Linked DNA regions of Homo sapiens. The protein of the gene in region 1 purifies or fractionates together with the protein of each later gene. This does not show direct contact. Each region holds a gene or a part of one and is shown in the gene's direction. Other genes may lie near its edges.

Evidence for each region.
Region 2: the proteins of TIAL1 (region 1) and TRO purify together in Homo sapiens (affinity purification with mass spectrometry; 2 studies listed by BioGRID and IntAct, with this or other methods). This does not show direct contact.

Annotation. Positions count from the first base shown.
Region 1 is NC_000010.11:119,567,899-119,583,070, reverse strand, and holds the end of TIAL1 (nucleolysin TIAR), read left to right. Parts: intron 1-462; coding exon of another isoform or gene 463-513; coding exon 514-612; intron 613-847; coding exon 848-902; intron 903-1,061; coding exon 1,062-1,149; intron 1,150-2,224; exon of another isoform or gene 2,225-2,598; coding exon of another isoform or gene 2,599-2,600; intron 2,601-3,060; coding exon 3,061-3,136; intron 3,137-4,236; coding exon 4,237-4,345; intron 4,346-5,334; coding exon 5,335-5,430; intron 5,431-5,535; coding exon 5,536-5,620; intron 5,621-5,867; coding exon 5,868-5,991; exon of another isoform or gene 5,992-6,165; coding exon of another isoform or gene 6,166-6,183; exon of another isoform or gene 6,184-6,320; coding exon 6,321-6,460; intron 6,461-7,258; coding exon of another isoform or gene 7,259-7,279; coding exon 7,280-7,406; 3' UTR 7,407-9,606; downstream 9,607-15,172. UniProt on the Homo sapiens protein: RNA-binding protein involved in alternative pre-RNA splicing and in cytoplasmic stress granules formation. Shows a preference for uridine-rich RNAs.
Region 2 is NC_000023.11:54,923,558-54,938,729, forward strand, and holds the end of TRO (trophinin), read left to right. Parts: coding exon 1-211; intron 212-893; coding exon 894-998; intron 999-1,112; coding exon 1,113-1,176; intron 1,177-1,431; coding exon 1,432-1,511; intron 1,512-2,034; coding exon 2,035-2,126; intron 2,127-2,852; coding exon 2,853-2,932; intron 2,933-3,025; coding exon 3,026-3,068; intron 3,069-3,485; coding exon 3,486-3,548; intron 3,549-3,747; exon of another isoform or gene 3,748-3,878; intron 3,879-4,109; coding exon 4,110-4,224; intron 4,225-5,045; coding exon 5,046-7,463; 3' UTR 7,464-7,474; intron 7,475-7,646; coding exon of another isoform or gene 7,647-7,781; 3' UTR 7,782-7,874; downstream 7,875-15,172. Other genes in the region: PFKFB1 (6-phosphofructo-2-kinase/fructose-2,6-bisphosphatase 1), read right to left, coding at 9,846-9,905, 10,264-10,328, 11,390-11,452, 14,038-14,167. UniProt on the Homo sapiens protein: Could be involved with bystin and tastin in a cell adhesion molecule complex that mediates an initial attachment of the blastocyst to uterine epithelial cells at the time of the embryo implantation. Directly responsible for homophilic cell adhesion.

The DNA of each region.
Region 1 (15,172 bases):
CTTTGTAGCAGCATAGAATTCCATCATTTGTAGTATTGATCCTAATTTTGATCAGTAGTTTATGAAGTTGGTTCTTGCTGTATTTCTGTATCCTGGGATACCACTTATAGAGGATTATGATGCATAAGTAGAACGTAATTTAAAAATAATATTGGAGAAGGAAAGTAGTGGTAAGGAGTGGTCCTCATCAGATCTGAGTTTGAGGTTTTGTTTGGTTTAATATAATCTTCTATTTTATATTTAACACACTTCACCAGAATTCTTTATTTTCATTTAATACTGATGCTCATGATTCTACAACTGCTTTTATAGTTCCGTTTGAGTTCAGCAGTATTCTGAGGTGCAAAGTCAGGTTTAGCTTTAAATCTTATTTAAAAAGTGTTAGGCTTTCATAAGCTTATGCAGTCTCACCTTGTATATTCCCAGCTATCAGTAATGTTTTTTCCTGGATTTTCTTCTCAGCAACCCGATAGCAGAAGGGTCAACTCTTCTGTTGGATTTTCTGTTTTGCAGCATACAAGCAATGACCCATATTGCTTTGTGGAATTTTATGAACACAGAGATGCAGCTGCTGCATTAGCTGCTATGAATGGGAGAAAAATTTTGGGAAAGGTAAGATAATAGGATGATGGCACCTTATGAGTACATATATTTGCATGTCAAACTAGTTTGTATTCTTTCTAGGCAAATTTTTGAGCAGATATTCGGCTGCTGAGTGATGGTTTTGCTTTATTCAGCTTAGTGCTTTTACAAAAATAACCCTGCTTGATAAATGATTTAATAAGTGGTAAGTGTTGTAACTCATGACATGCCTAATAATTTTATTAAATATAATCTTTATTTTTAGGAGGTCAAAGTAAACTGGGCAACCACACCAAGTAGCCAGAAAAAAGATACTTCCAGTAAGTACTCCTGCTGCATTTTACTGTGGAAGAGTTCTGAAATTATCCAGGAGGCATTACCAGCTTAAATAGGTTTTTTTTTCCTCCTCTAGAGTTGCCTTAAAAAGGTTTTAGTGGCTGACTTCTTAAGTATTTGATTACCAAATGCTCTGATTTCAGATCACTTCCATGTGTTTGTTGGGGATTTGAGTCCAGAAATTACAACAGAAGATATCAAATCAGCATTTGCCCCCTTTGGTAAAATATCGTAAGTATCATAATCAGTACTACACTCAGTCATGATAGGCAGAATTGTATATGATTAACTTGTAATTGAATTAAGATTTTCTTTCTCTAGTTAGTATGGTTTTGTTTTGTTTCTTATTTTTCATTTATTTATTTTGGTTTGTTTTGAGTAGTGGATGTTGTTGAAAATGTTAATGTCATTTCAGTGTCTTGGGGTCTCGTTTTCATCTAATCCTGTGTATAATATGTTAAAAAAAATTTAAGTGATTCTGTTTGTTATCTTTGAAGCAGATGTTTGAATGGTAAAACTTATAAAGTCTAGCTTTTTGTCATATGTTTTCAAAATTTGATGGTTTAGGATAATGAGTTAATCAAAAGTAAATGTGATCTATACTGTGTAAGAGTTCAATAACTTTTATAGGAGGAATTTATAAATGGGGGAGAGTAGGTAAATCCTTGGATATATTGTGATTAAATTGGAAATGTTCATGTTTTATTATGATAAATGTGTTTTTGATATTTTAGCTATAAGTGAAAAGTACTATTATACTATTAAAATGTTTCAATGTATGAGTCATAAATGTGGGATTAATTAGATGTTTTTGTTAGTGATATTTGATTCTACTAGTTAAGAGGCAAATGTGGTTTGATTTTTAACAAATTTATGCTCAGATTTTACTGTTGTTACTTGGTAAAAAATATATTGGAAAACTAAAAATGGTTATGAATTGTAGAAAATGTTTATCATAATTTATCTTTCTGATTAAAATCAGTTTATTTTGTATATTTCCTGTAGATTTAAATTAAACATCTTAGTACTACTTTACAGGAAAGTGTTTCAACTAAGAACAACAATATTTTCTCTATACAATTTGTTGTTCTATAGATTTAATTTCTTTAAAAGATGTAATTCTTAACTTTCTGTTTTGATATTTGCTTTGCTTTTTAATCTAAATGTGGTAAGTAGTACTATTTTAAAAATCAATATAAAAATAATACAGGTTGCTGTTTTTCAATCTTTATTTATACCTGAGACCTGCAGTTTTTCTTAAGTCCAAGTCACAATTAAAAGTAATAGCATTCTGGTTATTTTGCAGAATTGCTCATAAGAATGGACAGGATCTTGAAGGCTAACTGCAAGGAACTGTGCACACTGGAACTCAGTTGTAGATTTTTTTTCTCATTTCTATTTATTCTTATTATACATTATTTATATATACATATTTTAGTATTTACATTTTAACATTCTATATTCAGTGGAGTTCTATATTTCCAATCATTTAACTTACTCACTAAAATTTCTGTGTAAATTTGTTGTTTTCGTACTGGTGTGCTTAGCATTGTTGTTAGTTTTTTATTCTCCTTTCTTAAATTTCTGAAAATGTCAATTTTTCAAAATTTACAGCTGCCCAAACTCCAAAATGATGGTAGAGAATTGACCAAGAAAAATAAAGAAATCTGTTAACAGGCCATGTATGCCTTTTTAATTCCTATTTTTTCCTCTTTTTCAATTTTTTAATATTTCATATATTTTGTATCACTAGGCAGAAGACATTTAACTATTTAGAGATTGCATGGTAAAGTAGTTAGTATTGTTACAGTAATTTATAGAATCAGTAAACCTTAGAGGACACTAGTAAATAGAATATTAGAAAGGGAAACTGTTGTTCCTATTAATCTTCAAATTTGAGCATTTAGTTTAGAAAGCACAGGCTATTTGATTAGGTTGCATGTTTATTACATGTTTTTGTCCTACTGCTTTTTTCTAACAGGTAAAGAAGCATTAGGGAGAGTTCAGGAATGGTTGTAGTTAATTAGGGCTAACTGGAATTTTATTTTAAAAATGCTCACAATACAGTGTGTGTGGTTCCTTTTAGTTTTTATTTTGAGGGTGGCTCTTACTTCCCTCATTTAGCTGTGCTTCTTTTCACAGGGATGCCCGGGTAGTTAAAGACATGGCAACTGGAAAATCCAAAGGCTATGGTTTTGTATCTTTTTATAACAAACTGGTACGTTCTTCCATCTCAATTTATATTTTTTAATACTAAATTTAGTCATTAGTTACTTAATGTATTGAATCTGAAACTTGAATATACTTGAATGTTAACTACAAACACAACTTTTATGTAATGTTATGTATGTTTTAATAATAGAGTATAATTTCATTCCTCTTTCATAAACTCGAAAATAAATAGCTAGAAAAAGAATGATTATACTATAAGGAAGATTATTAAAATTGTGTTTGTACATTGGTAAAGGTCAGATGGATTTAGAAGTAAAGCCCAAGTCTAGGACAGATGAGCTAATCTGAGAATTTAGAGGTTAGGTAAATTATATTCAGTTTTAACCATGAAAATCTCAGTTTTAACTCTACCTTTTAAATTATTATTCATACTCTTATATAACTGGGATGTGAATGACTACAACAAATTATGTAAATAAAAATTTAAGCAATTCATCTTGATTTTTGCATATATTCTTTGTAAAAGGGGTACCAAAGTAAGCATTTGCATTAACTGTAACATTAAATAATAAAGTGGGCTTTGATTTTAAAGCAGTTTCAATAACTTAAATCAATGTTTTGTTTTGTTTTGTTTTGTTTTTTTGAGATAGAGTCTCGCTCTGTTGCCCAGGCTGGAGTCCAGTGGTGCCATCTCAGCCCACTGCAACCTCCACCTCCCGGGTTCAAGCGATCGCGCTGCCTCAGCCTCCTGAGTAGCTGGGATTACAAGCATGTGCCACCACACCCAGCTCATTTTTATATTTTTGGTAGAGACATGGTTTCACTTGGGTTCGCCAGGCTAGTCTCAAACTTCTGATCTCAAGTGATCCTCCTGCCTTGGCCTCCCAAAGTGCTGGGATTACAGGTCATCTACATTTTATTGAAGTGGTAAGATAAAGGGCCAGAGTATTCTGTTTTTGCTTAGATTGAATCTCAAGTTCAAATCGTTTTCTAATTGGTAATAGTTCAGTTTCGTTTTGTTTAGGATATTTAGTAAATTCATCTACTGATTTGTATGGAACCAGCAGCGCCGATATTTTATTTCATCTTACAGAGTCTTATTTATCACTCTTTTCTTTGTGATTGTGCTTTCTTTTTTATCCATAGGATGCAGAAAATGCGATTGTGCATATGGGCGGTCAGTGGTTGGGTGGTCGTCAAATCCGAACCAATTGGGCCACTCGTAAACCACCTGCACCTAAAAGTACACAAGAAAGTAAGATATGTCCACTGTGTGTGTTAAAATTATATTCTTCACAAAATCATGTATCATGTATTCATCTAGTCTCAATTTCTAATTTATTTATGTAAGAGACAGGGTCTTGCTCTGTTGCCCAGGCTGGAGTGCGGTGGCATGATCTTAGCTCACTGTAGCCTGAAACTCCTGGGTATAAGTGATCCTTTCACCTCAGCCTCCTGAGTAACTGAGACTACAGGGACATGCCACCATGCCCAGCTAATTTGTAATTTTTTTATAGAGACAGGGTCTGGTTACGTTGTCCAGGCTGACGTAGTATTTAATTAGTGTTGCAAGACTCTAATTATTTCATTTTATATTTCATTATCTGAAAATAATTGGGCTGTGGTATAAGTATTTTTGGAGCTGTGAATCACCTGATTTTATAGATCAAGTCTGTGTCAAATCATAGCATCAAGAAAAATTATGTTTTCTCCTCCCATTGAGGCATATCTTTTTTTTTTTTTTTTTTTTTTTTTTGAGGTGGAGTCTCGCTCTGTCACCCAGGCTGGAGTACAGTGGTGCGATCTCAGTTCACTGCAACCTCCGCCTCGCAGGTTCAAGCGATTCTCCTGCCTCAGCCTCCTGAGTGGCTGGAATTACAGGCGTGTGCCACCACACCCAGCCAATTTTTGTATTTTTAGTAGAGACAGGGTTTCACCGTGTTGGTCAGGCTGGTCTCGAACTCGTGACCTCGTGATCCACCTGCCTCAGCCTCCCAAAGTGCTGGGATTACAGGCGTGAGCCACCGTGCCCTGCCTTAATTTTTGTATTTTTAGTAGAGACAGGATTTCGTCATGTTGGCCAGGCTGGTCTCGAACTCCTGACCTCAGGTGATCTGCCCACCTCAGCCTCCCAAAGTGCTGGGTGCCCGGCCTGAGGCATATCTTAATAGTATATAGTAATTAACAGAAGAGTTTCATAGTACAATATAACAGTCAACGTTTTTGTTTTGTTTCTGCATACAGACAACACTAAGCAGTTGAGATTTGAAGATGTAGTAAACCAGTCAAGTCCAAAAAATTGTACTGTGTACTGTGGAGGAATTGCGTCTGGGTTAACAGGTACAATGTTTGGTTTTCTAATCACCTCTGAGGAGCTTCATCACTGTTCATATGAATTTCATGATACACATCAGCCATGTTTTATTTGTATGTTTTGTTTTATAGATCAGCTTATGAGACAGACATTCTCACCATTTGGACAAATTATGGAAATAAGAGTTTTCCCAGAAAAGGGCTATTCATTTGTCAGGTAACACTCTACTTGAAATATCATTATTACTCTTATATTTGATTCATTCCTTTCACTTATGTTCTCCAGGGTATCAGTGTTTGTTATTTTAGTGCTTCTTTGCAGTATAGAAGTTTAAGCTACCTACCTAATGTACTTTAGAAAAAAAATACCAACTTGCAGGTGTAAACTGATGAGTTTCCATGTTATTTATTGTGTTAGGTTCTTAAAAAATAAAAGACAAAACCATATCATTTTTCTTTCTTAGATTTTCAACCCATGAAAGTGCAGCCCATGCCATTGTTTCGGTGAACGGTACTACGATTGAAGGACATGTGGTTAAATGCTATTGGGGTAAAGAATCTCCTGATATGACTAAAAACTTCCAACAGGTAATTCGATTTTTCATAGCATTCTTTAAGGTTTCCATCTTACATGTCACATAAAAGCTTTGGAAACTCTGTAAAATGAACAATAAAATAAAGCATATAGCTACTTTCAGTTGATTGTATTTCAAAATTGATTATTTGCGGTATTAACTGAATCTTAATACTTTCTTTTCACAGGTGTCACCACCCCAATAAACTTAGACAATGATAAATAACAGAGTCCTATTCACATAAGGGTGCTTACTTAGTTTTTCTCTTCCTTGTCTCCCACTCTTTCTTCATATACGGTGTTTCTTATGTGTTCCCTAAAACAATACTTTGCTTTTTCCTAGGTTGACTATAGTCAATGGGGCCAATGGAGCCAAGTGTATGGAAACCCACAACAGTATGGACAGTATATGGCAAATGGGTGGCAAGTACCGCCTTATGGAGTATACGGGCAACCATGGAATCAACAAGGATTTGGAGTAGAGTAAGTTGTTTGGGTTTTTCCAGTATAGAAACGTATGGTTCTGACAAAATAAATAAAAGTGTGTTTTCCTAGGGAGAATCTATTTTAATTATATACATTGAGCTATTTGGCATTATGAGCATTATAGAAACTAATCTAACAAAATATGATTTATGAGGCTAAGAAATTACTTCTCATTACCTAGGTGGAAAGGGGGGATTGGGGTAACATTTAGTGTGTCCTATGATCCCTGTAAGCAGTTGGTAGAATTTGATTTACATTTCTGATACACTTTTATTTATTTTTGCATGTAAAAGATCTTTGTCCAGATATATTCAAAAGTTTGATGGTTTTATGCCTATGTGGTATGTGTGAGAAATCTGAGGTTTGTGTGATACAAAGTAACTGGCCTTTTTTTTTTTTTTTTTTCTTTTGTTGATAGAGTGGTTTCCTCCTTTGTAATTCCCCTGCCCAGGGCCAGCCCATAGCTTTATTTTCAGATTTCTTCCTTTGAGACTGTTTCCAACATGAACTTGTTTTTAAAATTTCTTATGTAATAGATGATGTGTTGAATCATTCACAATTTTTAAAAAATTAGTTTGCAGATACTCCTCAGACATCAGTGTGTTAAGTTGTGGTTATCTTAAAAATATCAAAGACTAATACTGGAATATGTATTCTACACATATATCATTTATTTCTTTGATCTTTCTATTTGTTGTAGGTGTGTTGATTTCTGGTTTTCTATTCTGTGATTAGGCTCTGCTTGATTTTTGTGTAAATACATATGTGATTTTTTTTTTCTTGTGTTTGCTGAAGATTTTTTCTTTTTCTTCCAAGTCAATCACCTTCTGCTGCTTGGATGGGTGGATTTGGTGCTCAGCCTCCCCAAGGACAAGCTCCTCCCCCTGTAATACCTCCTCCTAACCAAGCCGGATATGGTATGGCAAGTTACCAAACACAGTGAGCCGGGACTCTAAAAAAAAATTGTAATTCATGATAGGCTTCGATTTCCTGTGACACTCTGAAGACATGAAAGTAGACATCGGAAAATGAAAATATTTATTTTAAAAATTGAAATGTTTGGAACCTTTAGCACAGATTTGCTTTGGTGAAGGACACGTGTCTTCTAGTTCTGCCTTTTTAAGTTTTTGTTCATGATGGATATGAACATGATTTTTCTTTATGTACAAAAACTAAAATAAAGTCAATAAAGACAATTCTGACTACAAATTTTGATATAATAGGAAAAATGGCTAATACATTTTGATTCTTAGATACTATTCCATTTTTATCTTGCTGTTCAGTATTTTAACTCACTGTGTTTTTAAAAGAGCAAAAAAGGGAGGATCGTGAAAACCTGGGAATCACATATAAGTTCATCCTGAATCCTGATACTCCCCTCCCCTTCCCTGAGGTGGACCACATTTGAAGTCAGCAGAGAAAAAGTGTGATATTCAGAAGAAATGCGTGATTTTGGAGTCGCTTTGGAGGAAATATTTTCTTTCTCTATGCCTAAAGAAACTGAAGCCAGACTGAAGTTTTGCACCCTAAAAAAGGAACAGCATTGTTTGAGTTACTTGAGCAAATGTTGGTGGTCCACGTTAAGACATATTTTTAAAACTTCCAAAAGTGTCGATTATTAAAATTGTAGTATTTTACATTTCATTTTGGGGGGAAATCCAAGTATGGTGTTTGTATTGAAGTCAGACAGTCATACTTGTGCTTTTACATGAAGTTTAAATGATACATATTGTAAATATTCAATAACTACAGTGTTTAAAAAGCATGCTTCAACATAGAAGTAGCAGCAATGTAATTATTTGAAGTAACACTTAACACACTCCGCTGCATTGAATGCAGTGGATTGATCAGAATGTTAAGACTGACATTTCCAAGGTTGGCTACTATGTAAAATTAAAATTACACAAATTGTGCAGAAAAAGCCTTAATTTTAATTTCATACAATCTTTGATGCATTAGTATGTTCTAAAATGTCATTGGGAATTAGTTTTTTGTTTTTGTTTTTTTTTTTTTTTTTTTTTGCTTTACATTACTTGGTATGTAAATACCTTGATTAAAACCTTGTAAACCAATTTCAAGGTTACTATAAGTTGTATAGTACAAGTGTTTTTTAAAAATCTTGGGGTGTTTTTAAAAATTAAGATATATTTTGCCCAAGAATTTTTTTAACAAGATTGCTAAAAACATCTTATTTAGACACTTCAATGTACCAATTTATAATTGGATATTCAGTTTAAATAGTACACAGAGTTGTGGCTTTTATTTTCAATTAATTTTTTTCCTTGTGGGCAGTGTGCATGGTATAATAAGCCTGAGCAGAGGCTTAAGTTGTATGTGTGCAGAGTTTGTAAAGGAATCAATTGGAAGATGCAGAAGACCGAGGTTTGCTTTCAAGGTATTTTTCAGGCTGTGTGGGTAAAATTTGCCTCAAATTTCTATCAAACAGGAATGTAAAATAGATAAAATCCTATGTATTTGAATTGTCAGAGCTAGGGAGTGCAAATGTTTTGGCAATGTATTCAAAATGCTGGCCTGGGCACCAAAGAGAAAATAGCCTTTTACAGTTACATAGTAAGATGCGATTAGTACCCACAAATTACTGTTTTCTAAACATTTGAAGTTTTACGATTAGCTTTAAAATAATGATTTTATAAATTGGTGGTCACAATAATTTTGGTATTACTTTCCTCCTTTTCCCACTTAGCAATATAGCCAAATGTATTCAACATAAAAATTCATAGGGTCTGAAATTCATAGCTGGGCCAAATTTTTTATGGCACCTTAGTTTTACCATAATGGTCATCTATTACACTCTTCTGTTATAAAATATACCCTTATTTCTTTTGTTTATAGTATCTTTGAGGAATGTTTTTGGAAAAGTTAATTTATATTTTATAGGGAGAACACTCAATAAATTATGTTAACTGTGCCCCCGAGTTAAAAATTTTATGAGTATATGTGAAACTTGAACAACTGAAGACTTTTTTTAATTGATAAAAATGCTTAGTATGCCTGTTTTGGTCTGCCAGTAAATTAAGTAGCTTATTGAGATAACTAACAGCTAAATATAGCTGTAGTGTTTCCTGACTGTATATTCTATGATTTAATAAAATTATCCAGACTAGTTATATTGCCACAGTAAACATGTGACTGAAGTGTCCTTCATCTTAATCTGAAAGAGGGCAAAATTTCATGATCAGTTAATGGAAGTTATTTCATATTAAGTGGTTTTTTTTTTTTTTTTTTTTTAGATGGAGTCTTGCTCTGTCGCCAGGCTGGAGTACATGTAGTGATGAGAACTTGGCTCACCGCAACCTCTGCTTCCCAGATTCAAGCGATTCTCCTGCCTCAGCCTCCTGAGTAGCTGGGATTACAGTCACGTGCCACCATGCCCAGCTAATTTTTTTGTGTTTTTAGTAGAGATGGGGGTTTCACCATGTTGGCCAGGATGGTCTCGATCTCCTCACCTCGTGATCCGCCCGCCTCAGTCTCCCAAAGTGCTGGGACTACAAGCGTGAGCCACGGTGTCTGGCTTTTTTTTTTTTTTTTTTTTGAGACGGAGTCTTGCCCTGTCGCCAGGCTGGAGTGCAGTGGTGCAATCTCGGCTCACCGCAACCTCCGCCTCCTGGGTTCAAGCTATTCTCCTGCCTCAGCCTCCCGAGTAGCTGGACTACAGATGCATGCCACCATGTCTAGTAAATTTTTGTATTTTTAGTAGAGACAGGGTTTCACCATGTTGGCCAGGATGGTCTCAATCTCCTGACCTCGTGATCCACCCACCTCGGCCTCCCAAGGTGCTGGGATTACAGGCGTGAGCCACTGCACCTGGCCATTAAGTGGTTTTTAAAATACAAAGCTACTTATCCAAATGAAATGTACCATTTAAAAACTACAACTGGGCCGGGCGCAGTGGCTCAGCCTGACCAACATGATGAAACCCTGTCTCCACTAAAAATACAAAATTAAGCGTGGTGGCCCGTGCCTGTAGTCTCAACTACTCAGGAGGCTGAGGCAGGAGAATCTCTTGAACCCAGGAGGCGGAGGTTGCCCTGAGCCAAGATTGTGCTATTGCACTCCACCCTGGGAAATAGAGCAAGACTCCGTCTCAAAAAAAAAAAAAGTGCAACTGTTGCCGGGCATGGTGGTTCACACCTGTAATCCCAGCACTTTGGGAAGCTGAGGCGGGTAGTGGATCACCTAAGGTCAGGAGTTTGAGACCAGCCCAGCCAACATGGTGAAACCCCATCTCTACTAAAAATAACAAAAAAATTAGCTGGGCGTGCTGGTGGGCGCTGGTAGTCCCAGTGACTTGGGAGGCTGAGGCAGGAGAATTGAACCTGGGAGGTGGAGGTTGCAGTGAGCTGAAAATGCGCCACTGCACTCCAGCCTGGGCGACAGAGCGAGACTCCATCTCAAAAAATAAATGAATTAATTAAAAGTATGGCTGTTGAGCTAACAGATGATTTTATAACATGACCCAATGCTATCTTGATCCAACTTAAGCCTAAGAATCGTTGCTCCCCACCCCGTTCATCAAAAACATCAGCAGAGACTTTTTGGGCATGCAAGGAAATGTTTTTTATTTCATAATTATTTTGAGATTTATTTTGGTGATGTGTTTCTGACTGACTGCCATATTCTTTGTTCTCATAATTTCTCTACTAGTATTTTCACTCCCAACCCCCGTGCCATTCCCACTTGATTTTTATGTCTGCTGGCAGTGAGAGGCTAAAATGGCCAACTTAAGCCAAAGCTGTAAACAACAGTTGAAGTAAGTCTTTCAATAAAGACTAGACTATATGATAAGTGGCTTTTTCTTATTGTCGTTTATTACATAATTATTCTACCAGGTTGCCATGAAATAAGCAACTGGGTTTTAAGTTTTCAGTAGTTATGTGGAGTATGTATGTAGTCAGGACCTATTTCCATGTTCTGTGTAAGTGTTAACAAGTCCATTAGCTTTGCTGAATTTAATCTCTGGATATGAAGGAGTAGAAATTTGCATCCTTCTAAAAATGCATGCTCTGTTTAATATTAATATATTAAAATTTATTAATTTGGAGTCCTCAGATACGGGAACTAATTTTACTGTCTAGGTTGCTCTTTGGTAGTATCTATGAGTAAAGATGATACTTGACAAAAATAATTTAATAAATGTTTTAGATACTTTACTAGTATGTCCAAATTAAATTTTCCCTATTAAAAGCATTTGAGCTTCTACTTAATACATTATAAACATTGACTTTGCAATTTTATTACGTATTGGAAAGATGCAAAACCTATTTCCTTTAGACTTTTACTAGTTTTTGTAAGCCTTCACTCTTAAGTGGTCCAAATGAGGGTTTTGCTTAAATGTGTATTCTACTATGTTTAGTAATTAAATATTCTCGTAATTGGCCAGGCACAGTGGCTCACACCTGTAATCCCAGCACTTTGGGAGGCTGGGGTGGGCAGATCACTTGAGGCCGGGAGTTCGATACCAGCCTGGCCAACATGGCAAAACCCCATCTCTACTAAAAATACACAAATTAGCCAGATGTGGTGGCGTGTGTCTGTGATCCCAGTTACTCAGGAGGCTAAGGCAGGAGAATCACTTGAAGCTGGGAGGTGGAGTTTGCAGTGTGCTGAGATTGTGTCACTACAATCCAGCCTGGGCAGCAGAGCAAGACTCTGTCTGAAAAATTAAAATATTCTAGTAATTATGTTTAAATAGGTTGCTGTAAATTAGATTGCCATCAATTCCATTTTCAAACAAGGAAATTATGTGAATATAACTTAAACTTTTTTTTTTTTTTTTGAGACAGAGTTTCGCTCTTGTTCCCCAGGCTGGAGTGCAATGGCACAATCTCAGCTCACTGCAACCTCCGCCTCCCGGGTTCAAGCGATTCTTCTGTCTCAGCCTCCTGAGTAGCTGGGATTACAGGCACCCGCCACTACGCCTGGCTAATTTTTGGTATTTTTAGTAGAAACGGGGTTTCACCATCTTGGCCAGGCTGGTCTTAAACTCCTGACCTCAGGTGATCCACCCGCCTCGGCCTCCCATAGTGCGGGGATTACAGGCGTGAGCCACCTTGCCCAGCCAACTTAAACATTTTATTGTTCCAGCTGGGCATGGTGTGACTCACGCCCGTGACCCCAGCACTTTGGGAGGTTGAGATGGGAGAATCACTTGAGCCCAAGAGTTTGAAGCTACAGTGAGCCATGATTGTGCCACTCCAGCCTGGCTGACAGAGTGTGAATCTCTGTCTCTAAAATACAATAAAAAAAAATTTAAATGCAATATTAGTATGAAACCTGGGCTCCTATTTTCTACTTACTGATTTTATTTTGAAAGATAGTGTAGAAAGGCCAGGTACTATAATTCATAAGCTACTTTGTGCAAATATTTCTTTTATGGGCAAAGATGACTTTTAGTTTTGGAATTGCCTAAATGTGGAAGAAATTTAATTTATATCTGGGAAATAGGGGTAGATGAAATCTATATAATTTGTTGTTTTTATTTTAAGGGGGATAAAAGGCACTGATAGCAATTGACTTTTTAATAGAATTAAGCTTTTGTGGCCGGGCGTGGTGGCTCACGCCTGTAATCCCAGCACTTTGAGAGGCCAAGGCGGGCGGATCACAAGGTCAGGAGATCGAGACCATCCTGCCTAACACGGTAAAACCCCATCTCTACTAAAAATACAAAAAATTAGCCAGGCGTGGTGGCAGGCGCCTGTAGTCCCAGCTACTCGGGAGGCTGAAGCAGGAGAATCCCTTGAACCGGGAGGCGGAGCTTGCAGTGAGCTGAGATCATGCCACTGCATTCCAGCCTGGGCAACAGAGCGAGACTCTGTCTCAAAAAAAAAAAAAAAAAAAGAATTAAGCTTTTGTTTGGGGGAAGAGAGAGACATGATCTACATAACTTTGATGGCTTGGTTTTTAAACAAGAATATCAGAGTAACAGCGGACAAAAGAAGTATGTTCAATAAATTATTTCCTTAACTTTCCAACTCAAAATACATATGCCGAATTTTGTCTGTTCCAATTTATTGCACTTTAAAGAATTCACTAACCATTGTTTCTCTGAGATGTTCCTCTGGGAGTGATCCACATCTAATAACGTCTTGGAGTCAGCTTGGAAAGTTTGCAAACATGAATCAAACTGAAGTGCTTTTGGATAGCGTTTGAGGAAAGCCAGGGCGACTGTATGCTGGAAAGGAATCTCAGGAGTGAGCTGTCCAGTTGTTGATCTTCCAGCGAGGCTTAGCTTGCCCGTGGGTCTCCTCTTTTCACTTTCCTTCCTTCTTGGGAACTGACAAGAGTTTTGCAAAAAGCCTGGTTGTCATGGTGCTATAGAATTACAGCATTGTTAAGGTAAACCAGATTTTGCTGTATAAAATCAGCAGATACCATAACTTGCCCAAGTGTAATTTTTTTTCCTGGTCCTTTATCTTTCTTCCTTACGTTTTGGTATACCAGCAAAGAGAAGTCTGAAACCATCTAGACAAAATAAAGCATGAAATACGTAGCCATATGCAACTGTGCATGTTCTGAGAATTATTGTATAAATTTCAGGTTTTCACATTCAGTTCACTTTACTGGTTACAAGTTAAGAATTGAGTTGTTCCATATTGGGTTTGTACGATTGCTTTTGCTCACAAAAATAAAGCTAATGTGTAAGTCTTAACAGCTTTTTAAAAAATGAGACTACACATTTAATCATCTTAGCTTGCTACTTTTTGAAGAGGACTAAACTTGAAAAACATTTTTAATTTTCTCTGGCTAGGTTATATTTTAGCAGATGGCATAACTCATACTTTGTTTAATAAGGGTTCAGATTGGGGAAAAAGTGACGAAGGATGATGAAGGAGGGATAAGTCCTTGATTCAGGAGCACATTAACCTGAGACTAGACAATTCTGGGCAGGTGTAGTAAGCCATGAATGGATAATCGGGTGGGGTGTTGATATGTAATATGTTCCTGGTTTAAGACTGTGTACACTTTATCAAGACTAGAAGACTTACCAGGAGACTTACCAGCCTATTGAAAATGAAATATTACCAACATGTTTGCTGATAGATGGCCCTGATAGTTTGTTTTCAATTTCCTTTAAGGTATGTTTTTATTTAGCAATATGGGTTCTACTTGTGTATTAGAATGTTGGGCAAATGGTCCTGTTTTACAATAGTTGCCTTTGAGCATTTTCAGTAAAATGACAGGGATTAGGATGTCCTTTAAAATCCACATTTCTTATACCCAGGGATATATTTTATTTTTTAAAAATGGATAACTTCATTCCTTGGTTGAAGCTCCCCGAAGGCAGGGACTTGGTTTGTTAACTACACAAATTCTAGTACTTGTAACAGTTCTTGGCATGTGGTAGGTGTTCAGTAAATGTTAAATACATTAATATGATAAGAGGAAATGAAAGTAAACATGTATTTTATTTAGTCTCCCTCTTGAAACCAGAACATTACCTCGTGTTCTATTTGAGTAGAACTTGATCAGAATTGGTGGGGTGCTTGTGAAAAGGTAGATTCTGAGACTCTGCAGTTGTGGGTGAAGGTAGTCTGAAATAAAATTAATTGGCCTGGCGGGGCGCCGGTGGCTCACGCCTGAAATCCCAGCACTTACGGAGGCCGAGGCAGGTGGATCACTTGAAGCCAGGAGTTCGATACCTGCCTGGCCAACATGGCACAACCGCATCTCTACTGAAGATACAAAAAT
Region 2 (15,172 bases), on another chromosome or scaffold:
GGCTCGGAAGGCTGCCACTAAGGCTCGGGCAACTGAAAGCCAGACTCCAAATGCTGACCAAGGGGCCCAGGCCAAGATAGCCTCTGCTCAGACCAACGTAAGTGCCCTTGAGACTCAGGTTGCTGCTGCTGTCCAGGCCCTGGCAGATGACTATCTGGCTCAGTTGAGCCTGGAGCCCACAACCAGGACCCGGGGCAAAAGAAACCGAAAGGTGAGATCTCTGACATTGCCATCCTTAACTTTGTGCTTCTTTTCCATTTCTACCCTTCTAGTTTGTTCATTTCTTCTATAAAAGTTTTACTTTGAGCTAGTCCCTGTGTTCAGATAGGCTGTGGAAGATGCTGAGAAGAAGGTGATATAGTTTCTGCTCCCTAGCAGTTCACAGATTGGTGAGGAAATAAGACATCCATACACTCAGCTACAACCTGTATGTAATACTACTTGTATTTAAATAGTAGTTACCACGTGCCAGGCTTTGTGTTGGGTACAGTTACACAGGGTATGTCTGAATGTCTTGAAAGTAACTCTTACCAACAAGGGATCATAGGTCCCAGTTTTACACTTAAGAAAACTGAGTCTCAGAGAAATGAAGTGACTTGTCCAAGAGGTACCAGCCAGCATAATTGGTGGTAGCCAGAGGAAGAGAAAGACCCTTAGGCTCTTATCTTGAGTTGTTCCTGGCCTGGCAGAGGAACGAAACTCCTTCCTGGAAGACAGTGAAAGATAAGCTCAGGACTCAGGGTGGCCAATGGCAAGGTCAGGATCAGGCTCCACTACAGCAAGGCTGAGGGAGGGGGTTAGAGGGACTTTCTGTCTGGAGCAGGCAAGGTGAGGAGACAGAGCCATCTCTTTCACCTGGTGACTCTGGACCTTCCTTCTTTCTGATGATGAAGTCCAAGCATCTGAATGGGGATGAGAGAAGTGGCAGTAATTACAGGCGGATCCCATGGGGCCGGAGGCCTGCACCACCGCGAGATGTGGCCATTTTACAAGAAAGGGTAAGAATCCAATGCTGTCCAGTCTCTTCTCTTCTTCACTTGCCCTCTTCTCTGCCTCCTTCCAAGTTTTCTGCAAGCATGTTAAGATCTCTCCATCTATTCCTCTCCTCCCAGGCTAATAAGTTGGTGAAATACCTGTTGGTTAAGGACCAGACAAAGATCCCCATCAAACGCTCAGGTAGTGTCCTACCAACCCTCCTCCTTGAGCTCTCCTCTCCACTCCCCTCTCCTCCCATAGTCTGGGAGTAACACTTTATGGCCTCTTTGTTCTGTCATATCTCCACACCTGCCCTCCTTGCACTCTGCCATGGCTGGCATCTCCCATTAACTCACTTCAGGTCTCTGATTGCACTGACCCAACAGGACTGGCAAAAGGGCTGCAGCTCTGTGGCCCCTGCTAAGCTCAGCTACTCTCACCTCTCCTTTTCTACAGACATGCTGAGGGATGTCATCCAAGAATATGATGAATATTTCCCAGAAATCATTGAACGAGCAAGCTACACTCTGGAGAAGGTGAAGGGGCAGTGCTGGCGGATGGGCGCAATGGGGAAGCTTTGAATCGAGCAAAGACATACATGTCCCTTTTGGAGAGAATCACAGAAACATGCTAATCCAGCCCCATTACTGTGTGAATGGGCAGACAGTGGCCTAGGGAGAGGTGTAGATTTGCCATGGGTCACACAGCATGTCAGTGATGAAAACATGGCTAGGACAGAAGCCACTCAAATTAGTCTCAGCTTCTATTCATAGTTGGACATATTCTGCATGTATTTCAGATCTCACCTCTCCCTTGTATCCCCATTTTCTGTCTCCCTAGATTCCTGCTCATCACAAAGATGATGTTGATGACAATAGTACATTTGCTGTGTGTTTACTGGGTGCCAGGCACTTGGCTATGTGCTTTATGTGCATTATCTCACTGACTTCTTACACATGCAGACCCCCTAAGTACACTGGGAGTTTTAGGATGCCCGGAAAGTTCACTGATACCTAAGCTGAATTTTGTGATCTCACAGGCTATTCTTTTACTTGGCAGATGTTTCGAGTCAATCTGAAAGAAATTGATAAGCAAAGTAGCTTGTATATTCTCATCAGCACTCAGGAATCCTCTGCAGGCATACTGGGAACGTAAGCTGGGAAAGGGCTGGAGTGGGAAGGAAGCTTCTGCTTTTATCTGTGCTGCTACCCCTTCTTTGTCCTACTTCCCCCATCCTCTTAGAGAGTCAGGAAAAACAGGGTCTCAAAAGCCCTGTCTCAGCACCTGCACATAGTTGGAGCCCTGCTCACAGTAGTGGCACCTGATTATGATTGACTGAAGGGTATAGGAGCCTAGGGTGGGACATTCCTGCTGTCAGGTTTGCTGTCTCTGTAGAAGCTTCCCAGGAAAGCAGGCCTGTCATTGCTTGCCTCTTCCGATGGAGTGCCTGGCCTGGCTTTGACAGAGTGGTTCTCAAGGAGGGCTTCCTGGTGTGGCTGGATCAGTATGCATGAAGCGCAAGAGTGTCAGTGGGGCTGAAGGTTCTGGGAGAGAAAGAAGGGACTCACATTGACTGAGTGCTTGTGTTGTACCAGGTTGACAGCCATTCTTCCATCTTCTTGGCAACCTGAGGAAGGGAGAATATGATTTTCCCATTTTACTGAATAATAGACCAAGGCTTGCAAGGTCTAAGTGCCTTGCCCAGGGTGGCATAGAGCTGGAAGCAGAGACTGGGCAGAATTCTGTATCTGAGGAATCTGGGAGAGGTTAGCCTGGTGAGCTGGCTGGTGTATCTTTTGCGGATGGCTGCTGAAACATAAACCTTCTTTCTGTCCTGTTGAAACATAAACCTTCTTTCTGTCCTGTTATTCCCTTAGGACCAAGGACACACCCAAGCTGGGTCTCCTCATGGTGATTCTGAGTGTCATTTTTATGAATGGCAACAAGGCCAGTGAGGGTGAGTGGCTGGGCATGCAGCTGAATGGGCGGCCATGGTCTGGATTCCATGTGTTCAATTTCTGTCCCTGTCTCCTCTTGCCTCCCCTCACAGCTGTCATCTGGGAGGTGCTGCGCAAGTTGGGGCTGCGCCCTGGGTATGACTGGGCTCTCTCAGCGCTTGCTGTCCGTGTTGTCCTTTGGCAAGAGAGGATGGTCCTAGGATTGCATCAGTCTGGTGGTCTGGTGGAGCGGGTGGGGTGCTGGACTGGGTAGAGGGCCCAGGGTTCTGACCTGGGTGGATGACGGGCAAATGGTCCTGAACTCTCTGCTGTCTCTCTCCTTAATGTCCTCTGTCTGTTCTAAGCTGAGATGTTAGATAGACCTTCAGGGATCCCTGACAAAGAGGCATCTGGTCTTAACTGCTTGCTTCTAGTGGCCATGTGCTCATTACTTTCTTCACTTCATTGAGACTGCCCCATGTGCTAGAGAGGTCTCTTCCATGTTGGGAAATGCCTCTGCCCTCATCTGGGCAGTTCTGATCTGTGTTCATGGGTTATTTTTCCCATTGTCAGGGTGAGGCATTCACTCTTTGGGGAAGTGAGGAAGCTCATCACAGACGAGTTTGTGAAGCAGAAGTAAGTGGTGTTTGGGGCTTTGTCTGGCCCTGAAGTGTTCTGGGTATACTGATCTGGTTCAGAAAGTGCTTAGTCAGTGCCTTTCTTATACTAGCTTTAGAGGGATGGGCATCCTGTGTCCTAGAACTGATACTGTCTAAAATTCCCATGGGCAGACCTTTCCAGGACTGGGCCAGACTCAACACAAGGCCCTTGCAGTGGGGTGCGCTCAGAGCAGAGGGCCTTAAGAATGGCTCCTCTGTTTACAACACACCCAACAGGAATCTGGGCTTACTCCTCACAGGTGGCATGATACTTTGGCCTTCCTGTGACATCATGCCCTATACATGTCTCCCCTGGAGAAGCCCAAGGGACTGCTTTGCACAGGGCCAGTGGGAAATGGCTCAGTATTGGAGGCCAAGACCATAAACTGTGTTTGGTAGTGAGTCTGGGGCTGGAGGGTCTTAGAAATCCCTCTCCAGGGGCTGTTTGTATTTGTTTGGAGGAGGTTGCCACCTGGTGTCTAGTGCTTAGACAGCAGGGTTGCTTGGTTAGAAACAAGTTTCATTTCCTTTTTCCAAGGTACCTGGAGTACAAGAGGGTCCCTAACAGCAGACCACCTGAATATGAGTTCTTCTGGGGCTTGCGCTCCTACCACGAGACTAGCAAGATGAAAGTCCTCAAGTTTGCATGCAGGGTAAGAGGAGAGCTGCCCGAGCTTGGCATATTAAGGCAATGGGATACCCTTGGCTGGGGCAGGCAATGCACAGGGATGGGCAGGTACAGAGCAGCCTGCAGCTCATATATAAACATGTGGAGCCTCCTTTATGTCCCAGGGTGCTGCTAGATATATAGTTTACATCATCTCATTCATTCTTCATACTTTGTATTAATCAGCATGGGCTGCCATAACAAAATACCATAGACTGGGTGGATTAAAAAACAAATTTATTTTCTCATAGTTCTTGAGGGCGAGAATCCTAGGTCAGGGTCCACGAGGGTCAGTTCCTGTTGAAGGCTCTCTTCCTGGCTTGCAGATGGCTGCCTTCTTGCTGTGTCCTCACATGGCTTTGTGTGTGAGAGAGAAGAGAGCAAGCTTTCTGGTGTCTCTTCTTATAAGGACACTAATCCTGTTGATCAGGACCCCACCCTTATGGCCTCATTTAACCTTAATTATCTCCATAAAGGCCCTATCTCCAAGTACAATCACACTGGGTGTTAGGGATTCAACATACGAATTTGGGGGCGGGCACAACCCTTCAGTTCATAACATATTTACGCTCTATCATTTCCTGTAATTATAAAGACACTTAGGCTAAGTGAGGTTAAGTAACTTGTCCAAGGTCATATAGCACGTAAGTCAGCAGAGCTGAAACTGGAGTTCAGAACTGACCCATGATAGAGCCCCAATAACTGAGAAGTTTAAAAAAGTATTGCTACTAGTTTAATACAAAGCCCGTAGGTTAATACATGATTACTAGGGTTGTTTTCTTATTATGATTATCATCCCCATTTCAGGTGCAGAAGAAAGACCCCAAGGACTGGGCTGTGCAGTACCGCGAGGCAGTGGAGATGGAAGTCCAAGCTGCAGCTGTGGCTGTGGCTGAGGCTGAAGCCAGGGCTGAGGCAAGAGCCCAAATGGGGATTGGAGAGGAAGCTGTGGCTGGGCCCTGGAATTGGGATGACATGGATATCGACTGCCTAACAAGGGAAGAGTTAGGCGATGATGCTCAGGCCTGGAGCAGATTTTCATTTGAAATTGAGGCCAGAGCCCAAGAAAATGCAGATGCCAGCACCAACGTCAACTTCAGCAGAGGAGCTAGTACCAGGGCTGGCTTCAGCGATGGTGCTAGTATTAGCTTCAATGGTGCACCCAGCTCCAGTGGTGGCTTCAGTGGTGGACCTGGCATTACCTTTGGTGTTGCACCCAGCACCAGTGCCAGCTTCAGCAATACAGCCAGCATTAGCTTTGGTGGTACACTGAGCACTAGCTCCAGCTTCAGCAGCGCAGCCAGCATTAGCTTTGGTTGTGCACACAGCACCAGCACTAGTTTCAGCAGTGAAGCCAGCATTAGCTTTGGTGGCATGCCTTGTACCAGTGCCAGCTTTAGTGGTGGAGTCAGCTCTAGTTTTAGTGGCCCACTCAGCACCAGTGCCACTTTCAGTGGTGGAGCCAGCTCTGGCTTTGGAGGCACACTCAGCACCACGGCTGGCTTTAGTGGTGTACTCAGCACTAGCACCAGCTTTGGCAGTGCACCCACAACGAGCACAGTCTTCAGTAGTGCGCTTAGCACCAGCACTGGCTTTGGAGGCATACTCAGCACCAGTGTCTGTTTTGGTGGCTCTCCCAGCTCCAGTGGTAGCTTTGGTGGTACACTCAGTACCAGTATCTGCTTCGGTGGCTCTCCCTGCACCAGCACTGGCTTTGGAGGCACACTTAGCACCAGTGTCTCCTTTGGTGGCTCTTCCAGCACCAGTGCCAATTTTGGTGGTACACTAAGTACCAGCATCTGCTTTGATGGCTCTCCCAGCACTGGTGCTGGCTTTGGTGGTGCTCTCAACACCAGTGCCAGCTTTGGCAGTGTGCTCAACACCAGTACTGGTTTTGGTGGTGCTATGAGCACCAGTGCTGACTTTGGCGGTACACTAAGCACCAGTGTCTGCTTTGGTGGCTCTCCTGGCACCAGTGTCAGCTTTGGCAGTGCACTCAACACCAATGCTGGTTATGGTGGTGCTGTCAGCACCAACACTGACTTTGGTGGTACACTAAGCACCAGCGTCTGTTTTGGTGGCTCTCCCAGCACCAGTGCTGGCTTTGGTGGTGCACTCAACACCAATGCCAGCTTTGGCTGTGCCGTCAGCACCAGTGCCAGCTTCAGTGGTGCTGTCAGCACCAGTGCTTGCTTCAGTGGTGCACCAATCACCAACCCTGGCTTTGGCGGTGCATTTAGCACCAGTGCTGGCTTCGGTGGGGCACTTAGTACCGCTGCTGACTTCGGTGGTACTCCCAGCAACAGCATTGGCTTTGGTGCTGCTCCCAGCACCAGTGTCAGCTTTGGTGGTGCTCATGGCACCAGCCTCTGTTTTGGTGGAGCTCCCAGCACCAGCCTCTGCTTTGGCAGTGCATCTAATACTAACCTATGCTTTGGTGGCCCTCCTAGCACCAGTGCCTGCTTTAGTGGTGCTACCAGCCCTAGTTTTTGTGATGGACCCAGCACCAGTACCGGTTTCAGCTTTGGCAATGGGTTAAGCACCAATGCTGGATTTGGTGGTGGACTGAACACCAGTGCTGGCTTTGGTGGTGGCCTAGGCACCAGTGCTGGCTTCAGTGGTGGCCTAAGCACAAGTTCTGGCTTTGATGGTGGGCTAGGTACCAGCGCTGGCTTCGGTGGAGGACCAGGCACCAGCACTGGTTTTGGTGGTGGACTGGGCACCAGTGCTGGCTTCAGTGGCGGACTGGGCACCAGTGCTGGCTTTGGTGGTGGACTGGTCACTAGTGATGGCTTTGGTGGTGGACTGGGCACCAATGCTAGTTTCGGCAGCACACTTGGCACCAGTGCTGGCTTTAGTGGTGGCCTCAGCACCAGCGATGGCTTTGGCAGTAGGCCTAATGCCAGCTTCGACAGAGGACTGAGTACCATCATTGGCTTTGGCAGTGGTTCCAACACCAGCACTGGCTTTACTGGCGAACCCAGCACCAGCACGGGCTTCAGTAGTGGACCCAGTTCTATTGTTGGCTTCAGCGGTGGACCAAGCACTGGTGTTGGCTTCTGCAGTGGACCAAGCACCAGTGGCTTCAGCGGTGGACCGAGCACAGGAGCTGGCTTCGGCGGTGGACCAAACACTGGTGCTGGCTTTGGTGGTGGACCGAGCACCAGTGCTGGCTTTGGCAGTGGAGCCGCCAGTCTTGGTGCCTGTGGCTTCTCGTATGGCTAGTGAGGTTTCAGGTAACTGCAATATTTCCATAGCCAGGACCCACAGGGATGGGTACAAGAGCTGGGAGATGTTGTAAGAAACACTAAGGCAGGACAGCAGGGTGGAAAGGTGAGGGCAATTAAGGAATTATGAGAAGACAGTGTATTTGGTGCTAAAATGTGTTCCTATTTGTTTTGTTTTCAGATTTATTCCCCATGTTTACAGATACCGCTAATAAATTGCAGTAGTCCTTCCCATGGAGCCAAAGTACATCCTTGGAATCTTTGTCCACACAGCAGTCAAGGCAGTTATGGCCAATCAGCTGAGGGTGTCATGTGATGGAAAAATCTGTTTGCTGTTCCTGCTTTATTGTTTGCTTTCTGTGTGCTGTCATATTTTGGTATCAGAGTTACATTAAATTTGCAAAATGAATTGGAGTTTTTTCTGTCTTTTAATGTGCTTAGGTAGTTGTGGAGTGGCATCTTGGGTTCGTAGAAGAGCTGGAGATCAGCATAGCTCTTTGGAGAATGTGGGTCTCCAGCTTTTGGCTCAAAGGCAAATATGATTTCAGCAGGATAGAGGCCTGGGGAAAGCATGGCAGGCAAGAGGATAACAGGTTGAGGAAAGATATGGAGAGGGAAAGCCTGGAGCAGAAGGCAAACGGAGAGGCTTCTGGACAGTAAGTACAGATTGATTTTGAATCACTGGTGTAAGAATGGAGGGAAGGGCAGAGGTCACTAGGGGTGGACATAAGAACAAGGGAGGGTTTAATTGGGATAGGAGAGGAAAACTTGGGCATATTGTATAGACTGTGGGGCAAAAGCTAACAGGAACAGGAGATAGATATGGAAGAGTCAGGAATTGACTGAAGTAGCCCATCCCTGAGAAGGTGGGATGGAATAGGGTACCAGAGAAGACAACCCTGACTTTGAACAGACTTAAGGGTGGCTGTGGATGCAGATAAATATAGATCTGCTTCAAGCAGGGATCAGCAACTTCTGTAGTAGACAACAACAACAACAAAAGGAGAGGTGGATTATACAAGGTTTAGGTCTTGCTGGGTGGTTGTGATGGAAGGACAAGGGAACAAAGGCAGCAAGTGTATGAGTCTGTCTCTTTACCACTGGGTCACTGGTACCTGGCTTATGGTAGCTGCCTGGAGAGTGGCTGAAGAGATGGCCCATAGTATCCAACATAGTTAGGGACAGAACACTAAGGATAGATTGGGGGACAATAGAGCATTCAAAGGACTCTGCTCTTGATGCTGTACAGCAACAAATATTGTTCATTCAAAAAATACTACAGGGCTGGGCACAGTGGCTCATGTCTGTAATCCCAGGACTTTGGGAGAGGCCAAGATGGGAGGATTGCTTGAGCCCAGGAGTTCAAGACCAGCCTGGATAACATAGTAAGACTTCGTCTCTACAGAATAATTGAAAATTAGCCGGGCATGGTGGTGTGCACCTGTGGTCCCAGCTCCTTGTGAGAGAGGCTGAGGTGGGAGGATTGCTTAAGCCCAGGAGTTTGAGGCTGCAGTGAGCTGAGATTGCACCACTGCACTTCAGCCTGGGTGACAGAGTGAGACCCTGTCTCAAAAAAAAAGAAGAAAATACTACATATATGCCTACTGTATGGAGGCACACTGCTAGGGATTCAGTGGATGACAGAGAGTTGTAAGGACTGGGGTAGTGGGTGGGCAGTGGTCAGACAGTTGGATGCTTACGTTTAAGAAGTCAGACCAGGGAGATGATACCAAAATCCATGGAGTAGGTGGTTGAAGGGGAGAAGATGATCACTGGAGTTGAGGGGGTCAGGGGACTGTGAGGCCAGAGTATTGGTTGGATCATTCACATAAACAGTGAAATCACTCAGGATGGCAGCAAGAGTTGGAGAAGAAAGGAGCACTTGGCTCAAGTGCCAGATTCTTCCCTGAGTATAAGGATGAAAGTGTCATGCCCACAGCCACCTTGCTGGAACAAGGCCCACAGGAACTCACAGGCACCTATCTTCTCCCCCATCTTTGGAGGTGCTACTGTAGAACTTTTCCCTCCAGGAAATCCTCACCCATTCCATGCCCTCACAGCAGCAGAGCTGGGTCAGGATTAGGGTCAGTACCTTGAGAACAACTGGAAAAGCCTCGCCATGACCTCCTCCTCTCCTCTTGTAGGCAGTAAGTCTTTATTCGTCAGAGAATAGGAATTAAGAAAGAAAGTTTCCTCCAGAGCTAGATAGCTCCTTGGTTGCGGCCAGCAAGCGAGGCTTGTTTGGGAGTTGCGGAGGACTTCTTCACTGGAAGTGGGGTGCCTCAGTGAGGCCAAGGCAGAGTAGGAGAAGAGCAAAGATAGCATTTCCTAAAGGTGGAAGGCGATGAGGACACAGGCAGTTTGACTTCTTGGAAAGGGCTCAGTAGTGGGCTGGGACAGTATCCAGGGCTTCCTCAGGTTCCCGGGTGATGTCCACATTCTGAGGAGAGAGCGCAGGATTAATAGGAAGGAGACAGCAGTGCAGGGCCCCAACCTCTCCCCTGCCTCTTGTCTTCATTGCCAGGCTCCCCTCTTTCAGCCAGGCCCGGATCCTGACCCTCAGGTAGGCCTGGGGGAATCTCAGCCTGAGGCCTTTTAGGCGGGAATTGCCCCAGCCTTGCATCTCCATGGTGCCTCGTGTCTGGGTTGTGGTTTCTGCATTTCTGGGTGCTGTTTGCTCCATCTGTTGGTGCAAAACACCCAGGCTTGGTGGGGTTGGGGCAGCCTTTCTGTGGATAAGGTGCTTTCACCATGTGCTGTGTCCACAGCCAGCTTGGGCCATGGAGTCCCCCACCTACCTCAGGCTTCTCCCGGTGTGTGTTCACGGCCTCCACATTCAGGTAGATGGATTCCACTTTGCAGCCTTAGAAAAGAACAATCCATCTGTCCATAGGCCCCCAAGGTAGGCACAGGTCTTCCCTGAGGTATCACCTCCCCTCCCCCATCACCAGCCACACCCCCAGCTTCATACTGTGTACAGATCATGACTCGCCTGTATGGAGGAGAATTTAGACAGCTATGTGATGTGTGGGGAAGACACCAGGCCTAAGAGGCAGCCAACAGGGTATCCTGTCACCTCTGCCCCTAACAGTCTTAGTTCGCTGAGCTTCAGGTGCTCATTTGTAAATGGGGATGGAGATGAGAGATGAACTCTGGCTGCCCACAGCTCTTGAGGTCCGCAGGACAGCAGTCTCATCTATGTAATATTGATGTAGCTCTGCGGATCCTCCAAGCCGTGTTAGGTGGTGAAGAGGTGGAAGAGTCCTGGGGCCACTGCCTTGGGCGATCAGTGCCAGGCAAAGTTTATCTGGAGGACAATGTGGTTGTGGCAACACCAGGAGTATGGAAGTTCACCTGGGAGTTTTAGGAAACCTGAAGACGGATGAGGGTGCATCATTGGGGCTTGGGGCTGACAGAGGGGGCCTAATGCCTGTGGAAGCTCCCTTAGCTTCATCCCTGTGGACTGCACCTTACTCCAGGCTTCAGTAGGTCATCTGCCCTGTTCGCACCCCAGAATAGATTTGATTCTGTCCCTCCCCTGTTCATGAACCTTTCATAGCTAATGTCCCAAGAAAGACCCTAAACTGCCCAGGCTGGTCTTTGTGCTCTTTCTCCAATACGGCCCTAACCTATAATTTTCCTCTGGTCCCCTTTGGGGAATCCCCCTTCCACAGCTTGGTGCTCTGTGCTGGGTGCTCTGGCAAAGACACAGAGTCAGAGCCAGCCCCAGATTTAGAAACCATCCTACTCTTTCCCTGTTATCCTACTACCATCAGTCCCACCCCCACCACCCACTAAGGGAACCTCCTGCAGGACACCCACCCAGGAAACCTCCTGCAGGACTCTTCTGGGCAAATGGTAGGCACTAGGGCCATGCTCATAGCCTCTATATGCCTGTCCTTTGATCAGGGTGGGAGTACTTACCATAAGCCACAGGAGTGAGTTTGAGCACTGTGTGCAGAGGGCACTTGAGATATGGAAGCTCATCTAGAAAGGAACAGGAAGCAGCCCTCAGAGGCAGGGTGCTGGCCAGGACACAGCCTCCCCAGGCCCCCAGGCTTGCTGGATGCTCCCCATTCCATGTCCCCTTGCCGTGGTGGGGCCTCACCAGGGGCCCACTCCCCACACCCTGCAGGGGCAGCACTGAGAGCACCTGGGAAGAGAGGAGGAGAGCAGGGAGGCAGGAATGCCTTGGAAAATGGTGGTAGACTGGACTGGGTGTCCTGCAGGAGGGTTGGGCCGGCCACCCTGGAGACGGCCACCACCTCACTCACAGGACAAATGAGACCCAGGCAGGCTTCTCTCCCGCCCCAAGCCTGGGGCCTTCAGCAGACCCCACACCACAAAGGCCCACAGTTCACGTCAGCAAGTGTTTTTTGAGACCCTGCTGTGGCAGTGGACAGCTCCCACAGCCTTCTCCCAGCCTGGCCCGCTCCCTCTGATCATCCCTGCCTCAGGCCTGGTGATGGACAAGCATTTGTGCATTCACTTGTTTCCAGTTATTGACATTATGCATAAAGTTGTTCTGAATATTCATATGCATTCTTGTCTGGGTCTATGTTTCCATTTCTCAGGCAAGCCCAAGAGGTGGGGACAGTAAGCCCATTTCATGGTCTCAGCCAACTGAGGCCTTGAGAGGGAAAATGCTCTCCGCAAGTCACACAGCCAGGAAGCAGCAGAGCAAGGCCTTGAACCTGGGACCCTGTGAGGCCAGAATGCATGCACTGGCCCCTACTGTCAACTGCCCCTGCCATCCAGGGGCTTGCAGTGTCCTGGGGGTGATAAACCCACCTGCTAGGCACTCTCTCCTGACACCCACTTTCCTGCCCACCTGCACATAACGCTACCCATTTCCCTTCATTTTGCAGGATCACCGACCCTCATGGCTTCCCTCAACAGCAGGTTCCACCCTAGGTTTCTGAGGTCTGCCACTGCCCTCCCAGCCTCCTGAGACATTAGGTTGGCTTTTTTCCTTCCTGGGCATCCATCCTGCTGCTCCTCCTTGTTTTTGTCATCATCAGGCCCTGGGCCAAGGGTGTTTTGCCCACTACCTCATGACACCCTTAAAGCTAGATTGAGGTACTACTGTACACCCTCCTTGTACACTTGAGGAAACAGACTCGGAGAAGGGAAGTGACTTGCCTGAGATCTCTGACCCAGCTCTGCCACTGCCTCCACTAATGACCTTGGCCCGGGCTCTTCTCTCTCTGGTCCTCAGTGTTCCCATTTCACAGGACAGGATTGGACTAGATGTACTCTGAGGGTGCCCCAGCCCTGATGTTCTGTGGGTCTGCATTCTCAGTCACATCATCTCTCTGGGCCTTGTTCCAGCATTCACCTAAGTAATGGGGTGGGTGGGGGGGTGAGAACATCTGTCCAGTGCTGCCCTGTCTGGCTCCCAGGACAGGTAGCCTGTGTGTAAAAAGCACTCCACACATGTCTGAGACGGGAAGTCCTCTGGCATGTACCTGGGATCAATGTCTATCCCTCACACTCTGAGCCCCATGACCTTGTGCCAGTCACTTCACCTTTCTGGGTCTCCCATTTCCTCATCTGGACAATGGGAGTTACAGCACCTGCCTCATGGTCTCAAAACATTGCCCTGAAAAGTAAAGATGTGAACAGAGAGAAATCTACCAGTGCAAGGACCCCCACCGCACATCCTATCACCTATTTCCAGTGAGGAAACTGAGGACCAGGCAGAGGAAATTCCTTATTTAATGTCAAGTTCTCAAGTGCCCTGGGTTCCAATTCTGGATGACTCCATATTACAGTGTTCTTTATTTTCAAACTAGCATCGTAGAAAAGATCCAAGACTGTAAAACAGTGTAGACATTGAATATAATTTTGCATTGCTCTGAGACACCTTAAAAATATCCTGGAAATGCTAACACATCAGCATCCACATTGGAAATGGAATCTCATGCCTGAAAGTGATATAACAGTTTTTTTTTTTTTGCCAGGCCAGCTGCCCCAGTTTGCAGTTCAGCCTATGCAGTCAGTGTGTAAATACTCTGTAAATGCAATGCCTACATATTTTTTTAAAAATAAATTATCATTTGAAAAACAATTTAAAATGAAAACATCACTATCTTGGGGAAATTACCCCTATAGCAAGGACAGAAACTTGTAATCAGGATCATGAAGCTATGAAAGGCCCTACTATCACCTGATGGTAGCATGCTTCACAGAAATACTAGCTCATCTTTTCCAGATTGAGGCAGACTGTTAACGTTGGCTTTGAAAATGTTAGCTAAGAATAATACTATACTAATAATAGCAGTTAATATATAGCCCACACAATGTGTCATGAACTGTTCTAAACTTTTTACTTATGTTATTTAAAATTCATCATTATTCTCCCCATTTTACAGATGAGGACACTGAGGCCAGAGAAGTTAAAGAAATTTGTGAAAGGCAGTACAGCTAGTATGTGAAAGAGAAAGAATCTGAACCTAGGCATCCTTGTTCTAGATACTCTTCTCTTAACTACTAAGATATAGATATCTAATTGTTGGTGTCAGTGTCTCAAATACCATCAAACATTCCCAAAGCAGAGATGAGGGTAGTACCTGAACTTTTATCCAGGAAATAGGCCAGGAGGCACCGCATGACAGCCTGGTGGCAGATCACCAGTACATTCTCCTGTCGTTCTAGCTCCATTATCACTGGCTCCAGACGCTGAACCAGATCCTCATAGGACTAAACGTAAGAGAGATACTTGAGTGAGAAAGGAAGATGAGGCACATTTGCCCAGAGGGGAAGAACTCTAAACTAGGAATCAAGAACATTTGGTTCCAGTGCCAGTTCAATTGTTGACCCACCAGTATGACCTTAGGCAACTCACTTCCTTCTTAGGGTCTTAGTTTCATTATCTGCTAAATGGGGGCTATCAATATAGTGGACCAAATAAATGTATCAATACAGTGGACTAAATAACAATAACAACAATACAACTCCCCACTGCAAATTGTCTTCTTAAATGCACTGCTGACCTTTCACAAAAATAAAGAAAATTTTATAAATATAGGGCCCCAAAATAGAGAAAAACGGAAAAAAACAAGTGATAAGTGGATGTAGCAGCCACAGCTGCCCTGCAGGCATTTGCCAATCATAGTAACTAAGAGTTTTGAGTTTTAAAAACCGTACGGAAGTAGAAGACAAGGCCTTGGGTGTGCACAAGGTGGGGAGTTAAGACTGAGACTCTCACATAAATCTGAGATGCTCAAAGGCCAAATCTTTACGCTCTAAGTGCAAACTAGAAAAAGTTCCTTAACAAGCAAAAAGAAACAACAAGAAAATGTGTCTGTCTCTCCTTGGCTCTCAGGGGAAATAAGTGAAAATCCTCCTGTATCAAATTCACACATAACAATATTAACCTTAAATGTAAATGGGCTAAATGCTCCAATTAAAAGATACAGACTGGCAAATTGGATAAAGAGTCAAGACCCATCAGTGTGCTGTATTCAGGAAACCCATCTCACATGCAGTGACACACATAGGCTCAAAATAAAGGGATGGAGGAAGATCTACCAAGCAAATGGAAAACAAAAAAAGGCAGGGGTTGCAATCCTAGTCTCTGATAAAACAGACTTTAAACCAACAAAGATCAAAAGAGACAAGGCCATTACATAATGGTAAAGGGATCAATTCAACAAGGAGAGCTAACTATCCTAAATATATATGCACCCAATACAGGAGCACCCA